2 linked regions of the Homo sapiens genome follow. The protein of the gene in region 2 purifies or fractionates together with the protein of the main gene of each other region. This does not show direct contact. Each region holds a gene or a part of one and is shown on either strand. Other genes may lie near its edges. The genes, in order: RBPJ and BEND6.

What was found.
Region 1: the proteins of BEND6 (region 2) and RBPJ purify together in Homo sapiens (pull-down; one study listed by IntAct). This does not show direct contact.

Annotation. Positions count from the first base shown.
Region 1 is NC_000004.12:26,428,699-26,432,218, reverse strand, and holds part of RBPJ (recombining binding protein suppressor of hairless), read right to left. Parts: intron 3,500-3,520; coding exon 3,359-3,499; intron 2,322-3,358; coding exon 2,166-2,321; intron 1,801-2,165; coding exon 1,697-1,800; intron 1,528-1,696; coding exon 1,212-1,527; 3' UTR 1-1,211. UniProt on the Homo sapiens protein: Transcriptional regulator that plays a central role in Notch signaling, a signaling pathway involved in cell-cell communication that regulates a broad spectrum of cell-fate determinations.
Region 2 is NC_000006.12:56,953,515-56,958,028, reverse strand, and holds the start of BEND6 (BEN domain-containing protein 6), read right to left. Parts: upstream 2,923-4,514; 5' UTR 2,569-2,922; intron 1-2,568. Other genes in the region: DST (dystonin), read left to right, coding at 3,442-3,622, 4,210-4,244. UniProt on the Homo sapiens protein: Acts as a corepressor of recombining binding protein suppressor hairless (RBPJ) and inhibits Notch signaling in neural stem cells, thereby opposing their self-renewal and promoting neurogenesis.

The sequences.
Region 1 (3,520 bases), on a different chromosome or scaffold from region 2:
ACATGCTTTTGCGGACATTTTCCTCATTCTACCATTAAGGGCACCATCTACCAACTGGTAGCAAATACTTCCCATATTTTTTGTCACTTGCCAACAAGGCAGAAAATACCCTGCTGAATGAAATCACTGGGAACATTCCAAGTTCAAAATAAAATGTTTAACTTACACATAATACAAGTTATGTACAAGATTAGGAGGGGGGAAAAACCTGAACAAATCCTGGAACACACCTATGTATTTACGTCATGGGAAAAGGGGAGAGAACACTTCAAATATCAACAAGTTCTGCGCCATTAACTCATTAATAGCTAAATGGCCACACCAAATTGCATGTGAATGTTAGAACCTCTCAGATAACCACAATAAGTCCATATTTTTTTTTAAAAAAAGGAAAACACAGAAATAACTACCAACAGTGTCTGAGAAGAGAGACTAAGTTAACATACATTGCATGTATTGCAGGCAAGGCAGAGGCATTTTTTTAAAGCTTTTGCACAGACTTCATATAATCTTAAAAAAAATATGCAGGCCTTTGCAAGATTTGACTTGCTGAAATCCAAACAATTTTGACTCATGAAAAGTCATAAGACTTCAGCTGAAAAAAAAGAAAAAAGTTCCAGCCTTAGACCAAAAAAAAAAAACCTGGAAGAGTATGATAGATTAAACAAGGATGGTCAGGCTTGGAACCTGAATGTATTTTAGAGCAAAAGCTCAAAGGTGGGTGGGGAAGAGAACAACCTATTTGGTAACAAGGTGTACTATAATACCGTGATATAAAAAAAGGTATGGTGAAAATGTACCTTTTACTAAAGCTTATACAATATACAAGTTCCTTGGTCCATAAAAACTATGTTAGATTTGTGTCTTCTAGTTTGTTCAACTTGTATTCCAGCCACATTATTTACTTCTTGCCCATTTAAACAAAACCAAACAAAAACCAACCAACCAACCAACAAAACAGCTGAAAAACTTGATTTCCAATATTTATACATTTTGATTTTTTTTTCTTTTTTTTTTTTTTTTTTTTTTTTTTTACTGTGGCTTCTGCATTTCAAATCAGCACTTGCAGGGAGACAACGGGGTTTTTGAATAGTATCACCTGGTATGAAAAGTTTTCCCAAGAAACCACAAACGATTGTTCATTTTTTCTCCTTTTTTGTTAACTTTTTGCCACACTCAAGTCAGTTTAAGTCCTAGCAAAAAGACGGTAGTTAGGATACCACTGTGGCTGTAGATGATGTGACACTGGTTGAATTTGTGCTGGCGTTTGTGTAACTTCCCTCGCTGTTTGTGTTTGATTCGTTAGGGGGCACCTGGCTTGAATTGGCTCGAAGGATTGCTCCTGCTGCACTGCAATGTGGCCGCGGCCCTGGTTCTGGTGTGTAGGTAAAGGTAAGGCTGGTGGAATAAATGATTCCATCATTTCGGACCAAAGTTACTGGAACCTGGACTGGTTGCCGGACCCATCTCCAACCTTCTCGGAATGCAGAAATGTCTGGGACGACACAGAGCATACTCTCTCCACACCTGAGGAGGAAATAGAAATCACTTAAAAACACTTTAAAAAGCAAAGTACATGTTAAAAATGAGACTTAACACAAGGTTGTTTAATACATTACAATCAGTGCCAGGAAAGAATCTCCTGTACCCACACCCCTCACAACCTCTGGATGATGCAAAAAGTTTTATCAAGTACCTGTACATAGTTTCAGCTTCTACATCCCCAAACCACACTCGTAAATTTGGAGTGAAATTCTGTCCTGTAAGTTCAAGCATTGCTACGTCCCCACCGCCATTCAACTGCAATTCACAGAAAATCACAACACTGAGAAAACTTTTCATTTTTCATTAAAGTACACAAATTAGATTCTCATTCAACTTTCATTTGTTTTTTTTAAAAAAGGGCAATTAAAATGTTTTTTATTACAAAGCTAGCTAAAAACATTTCAAGATAACATACAAGTTTATTTACATTTAAATTTTCTGGCAAGTACGCTCCTCCTAATTTTGTTTTTTTTTCTTTAAATCAACAAATGGTGTATATAAAAATCCCCTAATCAGACGATTGGAGAAAAATCAAAACTCCCATGAAATGAAATGATGCCAGGTCACAGCTGAGAGTAGCTGCAAAGAGCTGAAGGCCAACTTGGACTAGGCGTTCTCACCTGAAGGCTCTCTACCACAGGCACAGGAGTGACTGGGGCAAGGACAGGGCCCATTCCCTCATAAAATGTATACTCTGCCTTATCTGTGCTAATGATTGTCCAGGAAGCGCCATCATTTATCATCTCTTTATTTGGTTCTTTTGGACATGGAGTGGCCTAATAAAGAAAGAAGTTTAGAAACTAAGTTTTATACAGTTTGTATTAATAGGATAAGAAAATTTTACCAAGTAACCCTCAGACAAGAGTTAATAAGAAGATAACTCAGTAAAAACTTATAAACTTTCTAAAGTATGGTGCTTTGCCAATCCCTACATAAACACAAACAGAATGCTAATACAGAAACCCCATAGACAGCAGTTTTTCTTATAATACAAACTATTTCAGTGACATATTAAATAATAATACCTTTCAGAACAACCATTATGAGTATACCAATGCAGGTACAATTTCATTAACAGCAGATCAATATCTGTGATGTAAATGGCTGTTTAAAACTCTTCAAGGACTCCTAAGAAAGACAATGGGACTCCTCATGCTTAGGCAACAGCTAGAAGCTTATGCATGTTCCATGGGAGGGAATCAAGATGGGAAGGCAAAGCCCCTACCCCTACCTTAACACACCTAGACCAGGGACTCAGCATGCCCATCAGTGTGTATGGGCATCTCTCTGCAAAGGAGTTTCACATGAAACCATAACTGTCTTATTAAATCATCTGCCCATGTCATAACCTCATGAAAGCCTTCTGAGTAAATGTAAAACATTAGCTTTCAAAGCATGTCATCATTACTATCTTCGGAAACCACGACATAAATCTGATGAGATTTTGAGCCTTCACCCAGAAAAATGCTTTGTCTATACAATGTTTGCACACAATTTCAGAGGATTCAATGAGCACTGAAAATCTATTTTTGGATATCCTGAGGGGCTCTTTGTTCTTCAATTAAGAACCCTGGAACTAGATGTTAACTGTTTTCTCTGAGAACATTTTCATAATTTTGAGTTCTTCCTTGAGGAAGGATTGCTTGCATGTCTGAGGATTGTGTGTTAAGGATGCTCATACCTGAGATAAATATCTGTGTATAGCTTCATGTATTTGTATATAATTAACAGCAAATGAAAATTTCATATTTTTGCAAGCTGCTAACCTCACAGTTTGTACATTTTAGATTTCACCAGTAATTTAAAAACATACCTGAAATTGAATTATTCTTTCTTGAGAAAGGCACAAATACATTCTTTCTGTATCCTTAAGGTAAAATGCACATTTATGGAGTTGTGACACAGGATCATCTGCATCCAATAATGCGGTCTGCTTATCAACTTTCCTAATTATCTATATTTAACAATTAAGAAA
Region 2 (4,514 bases):
CTGTGGACTGGGTGAGCATGCCAAGTAAGAAAAAAGGAATAAGATGCCCCATTTTGGCTTTGAGGCTAAGCTGTGTTCTTCAATCTGACTTTATCTTGAATAGAGTTAACACAATATTTTAATTTCCTTATGGTTCCTTGTGTCTATTCCCAATTTGGTTGAGAATCTAAAGGGAAGAAGGGCTATATAATGGACCATCTTCTACATACGTGGTATCAAACTCTCTTAGCTATCTTTCCCAACTATTTTGTCTTCTTTTGGGTGACAATGATAACTTACTCTCATAAAAAAAGTCAACAAATTATACATACTTTTCCATTATGAATTTTCATTTTTTTGTATGAAAGATTTGGGCCATGGCTCTCCCCCTCCATCCCTATCCTCAAACTTAACAATTTTTTTTGTGTGTGACTTTTATACAATGTCAATTATTCTTTTTTTAAAGCAAAAACCTACCAGGAAGGCAAGGTATAATTTCTACTAAATTAACTTCCAAAAAGCACTGCTTGGCTGATTTAGTATTTATTGAATTCCGCAATGCATTAGGCACCACATAAACACACAGACAGAAGCAATTAATACTATGTATGCTGTTATTTGGAAAAAATGATAAATTAGCAACAAACAAATCAGAAAATAACAATGGAACTAAATACTAAATTCTTTCAAGGATTTGGTTTGTTTATTATTAGTATCTTTAAGACAACTGATGGAAAGAACAGAAATGAATGCATCTAAAAAGAAATATCTATAATCCTATTGCATGGCAGTTAAGCATTTGCCTGCCAAGAGAGATAAATGATGTTCTTGTGTGCACTTGAAACTTATAAATGGCTGCAGCAAGACGCAGGATGATAACAGTTGTGCTAAAGTCATAGCTCAGAAAACCATAATAGCTATTTAGTTGCTTTTTGTTGTTAAAAAAATATAGCGTTTGGGGCAATTTGAATACTATTCTGTGTGTCTTTGACATGTTTCTGTTCAAGGATACGTAGGCTATTTCAGCTCACTTACAAATTTCAGTCAATGAGAAGCATAAAGATGACCTTCCAAAATTCTGTTAGTTATTTCCCCCAATGTCTGCACACGGTTAGTTCAGTTTTGTTGTTTAAAATTACTCCACCATGCCATTGTTGAGTCAATGCGGTGGAGAATTCTTCCTTTCCTGATGTGCCACACATTGCAAACTCTCAGGATTTTCTTCAATAACCTCTGCATAATTGTTGAATAGTTTCTCACTGCAGTGGGCTGCGGTATCAAGAAACCTTTAGCCATATGCACATGATGTAGTGCTACCTGTCACCCACTCTGAGTGCTAGAGACCCATGAAGCCTATCCTGGAATTCAGTGCAGCCTACATGCTGCCATTCAAAATTCCCACCTTATGCAGTGTCTCCAAGCAAGGGCCCTTCTGAGTTCAATCCAAAACAACTGAATGAATGAGATGCAACATGTCAACAATTCGAATGTTTATTTTGTTTAAGGAAACCAGCTGTAAACAAAACGTATCTGTTGTTTTCCATGCTTATGAATCTGGCACTAAGAGACTGCATTAACCAATGCCTTTTTAGGTTTAATACTTACACACGGTAATATGTTACTGGCTTTAAGGACATCAATGATTAAGCTTTCATGCAGAGCTGTACGGTTTTGTATAGTTGGAAAACAACACTGATTTTGAGATCACTACAAGCAAATAAAACTTTTATTCCTCCCAATTATTTACCTGCTTTTCAAATTTTTATAAATTTTTATGACACAATTTCTTCAGTCTATTAAATATTCCAAAAAAGAGGCTAATACAGTTGTTATAAGAAACTCCGCAAATGCAGTCAAGTGTTACCTTGTCACTATAATTAAAGTTTTCTTATGCGAGTAAATGAAACAAACAATCCAGCCCCACACAGGGAAAGCCAGCATTGCCTTGGGGGCAGCAGAACGCGGCACAGCACCGCCCGCCAAGGCCGCAAGATGCCGCAGAATGACTGCTGCAGCAGCCGCTTCCTGGCCAGGTGGCCGTGGCCGTCCGCAGAAAGGCACACTGCAGCGCTCTCGCTATACCTTCCGTGCTGGCATTGCATCAGTGTTAAATCCCCTGGCCACCAACTGCCATATACTTTTTGCTGGTTATGAAGAAACGTGGGGAGGGGACAAAGGGGAGACAGAGTGTGCCTGCAAGTGTGAGAGATCACTATTGCCTCACACTCCCTAAAAAATTTCTCCCCCAAATGTTTATAAGCCAAGTACCAACTTACTTCATCTGCCAGGTCCCTAAATCTGAAATCGCCTTGCCCTTCAAATGCACTAAATGAGTCAGGGTTTTAGGGCAAACCCAGGGATACAAGAAGATCGAAAGTGCCCAATTCTTAGCTGCGAGATAAGCACCAAGTTTGGGGTGGAAGAGTTCACCTCTGCCGACCAGAGCGTACTACCCCGGAGCGCTCCTAGTTTAGAGAGGCTTGGAGAGGAGTGGGCCTCCCGTTCCTGGAGTATCCCAATTCCCAGGGAAGGCCCTTCCCGGCGCTCGCGCTTCAGAGTGCGAGGAAACCCCCACAAGCAATAGCTCACCCGGCTGCATTCTTCAAAGCCCCAACCTCGGGGCGGGGCGCAGGGAGGTGGGAGGTGGAGGGTAGCACCGCCGGGAGGCTCCTGTCAGCGCCTCTCGGTTTTCCCCCTGGCTCCTTGGCGCCCCCTGACGACGGGCTCCGCAGCAATTTGGCCGAGGGAGGCTGGATAGGCGGAAGCTCCGGGTGTCCGGGAAGCTAGAGGCACCCGGCCAATGCACCCGCGGACGGCGCGGACTGGCGGGCGGCCCCGCGGGAGGGCGCTGGGCTCTCAGGCCCGGGTGCAGCCCGCGGACGCCGCCGAAACCGCCGCAGCCATGTCCGCGCGCCCGCGCTGCCGCAGCCTGGCCGTGATGTCATCAGCCGAGCCCCCGCCGCGGCGCCCCATTCCCGCCCCCCGCAGGCTGCCGCGGCTGCAGCCTGAGCGCCGCGTCCCCGCCCCGACCCACGTGCGCCCGGCTTCTGGGATGCTGAGGTCGGCGGCGGCCGCAGGACGATGCGCGGGGCCCGGGCGGCCGCGGCGGCGGCGCTGCTCCTCCCCACTCGCCGCGTCCCCGGCGGGGCTGCGCCCGGGGGCTGCGCACGGACGGGGGCGGGGGCGCCTGGGGAGGGAGGGGAGAGGATCCCAGCCGCCGAGTCGCAGCCTCGTCGCTGTCTGCTGAGTCATGGCAAGCGCTCCCCGCAGCCCTGGATCACTCGCGTAGCGCGGCTGGCGCGGGGTGCGCAGCCATTGGGCTGGGCGCGGGGCCGCGAGCGCCAGGCATGACGCGCTGAGCCGCGCTCACCCGTGCCCGCCGTCCCGGCGTGCGCCCAGCGCGGGTGCCTGTGCCGCCGCCCTCCAGCCCCGCCGTCGAGTCGCCCTCGCCTCGCCCGCACCATGATCGCCGCGGCTTTCCTCGTCTTGCTGAGACCCTACAGCATCCAATGTGCCCTCTTCCTCTTGTTGCTTCTGCTGGGCACCATCGCCACCATCGTCTTCTTCTGCTGCTGGCACCGCAAGCTCCAGAAAGGGAGGCATCCGATGAAATCGGTCTTCTCGGGTCGTTCAAGAAGCCGAGGTAAGACACGCCGCGACGGGTTTCTGCGGGCTACCAGGAACAATTAAGCCGATTTGGAGAGTGAAGCGCGGCTCGCTCCCTTCTCCTCGGCTGCCCCTAGCCCCATCATTGCCCACTCCCCAGGCTGAGTGCGTTTCTTTAACGCCCCTTGCCCTTTTTGCCGTCACCTCCGCCCTCCAGTCTCCCAGGTTTGAATAACCACGGCGATGCCGAGGGCAGGGAGGGGAGGAAAGAACTCAAATTTTTAGTCAGTTTGCTAAAGCCTTAAGGGTAATTTGAGCGTAGTCCGGGGCTGCGCCAGCCTCGCCTTCACGCATCCTTCGCTGGAGCGTAGGGGTAAGAAAGTAAGGCATGGAAACTTCGGGGCTCCCCAACTCCCCCAGAACTTTCATGCAAACTTCTCGCGGAGAAATCACGTAGAGACCGATGGCCCCAGGACTCCTCCTCCCTCCCCCAGGATGTCCCACCGAATTCCAGGAGTCTGCGATGTGCTTTCCCAACCCTGGTCTCCCAGGTAAGTCATGAGTCACTCGGTAGGTGAAGAACAAGGAGTTAAATGAAGTCTCATTTATCTCTTTTCTCCCCAGATGCTGTTTTGAGATCGCACCACTTTCGTTCTGAGGTAATTTATTTAGCGCGCACGCTCAAGGTCAGAAGAAGTTCTCTTTCCTGAGTACCAATATTAATTATATGCGTGTTAAGAAACCAGTAGGACACTGAATGACGAACATGCTGTCCCCTAGCCGAAAGTGGCATGTTTCCTTTTAAGTGATTTCATATTAGTGCCCAGCGAACGGTTTTAGCAAATTTCTTGTGTAGTGGAGCTGTTGTACAAGAGGGGAAAAGGCAAACCCTAAAAGTGCTGCAGACCTTAAAAAACTTAGCCACAGGG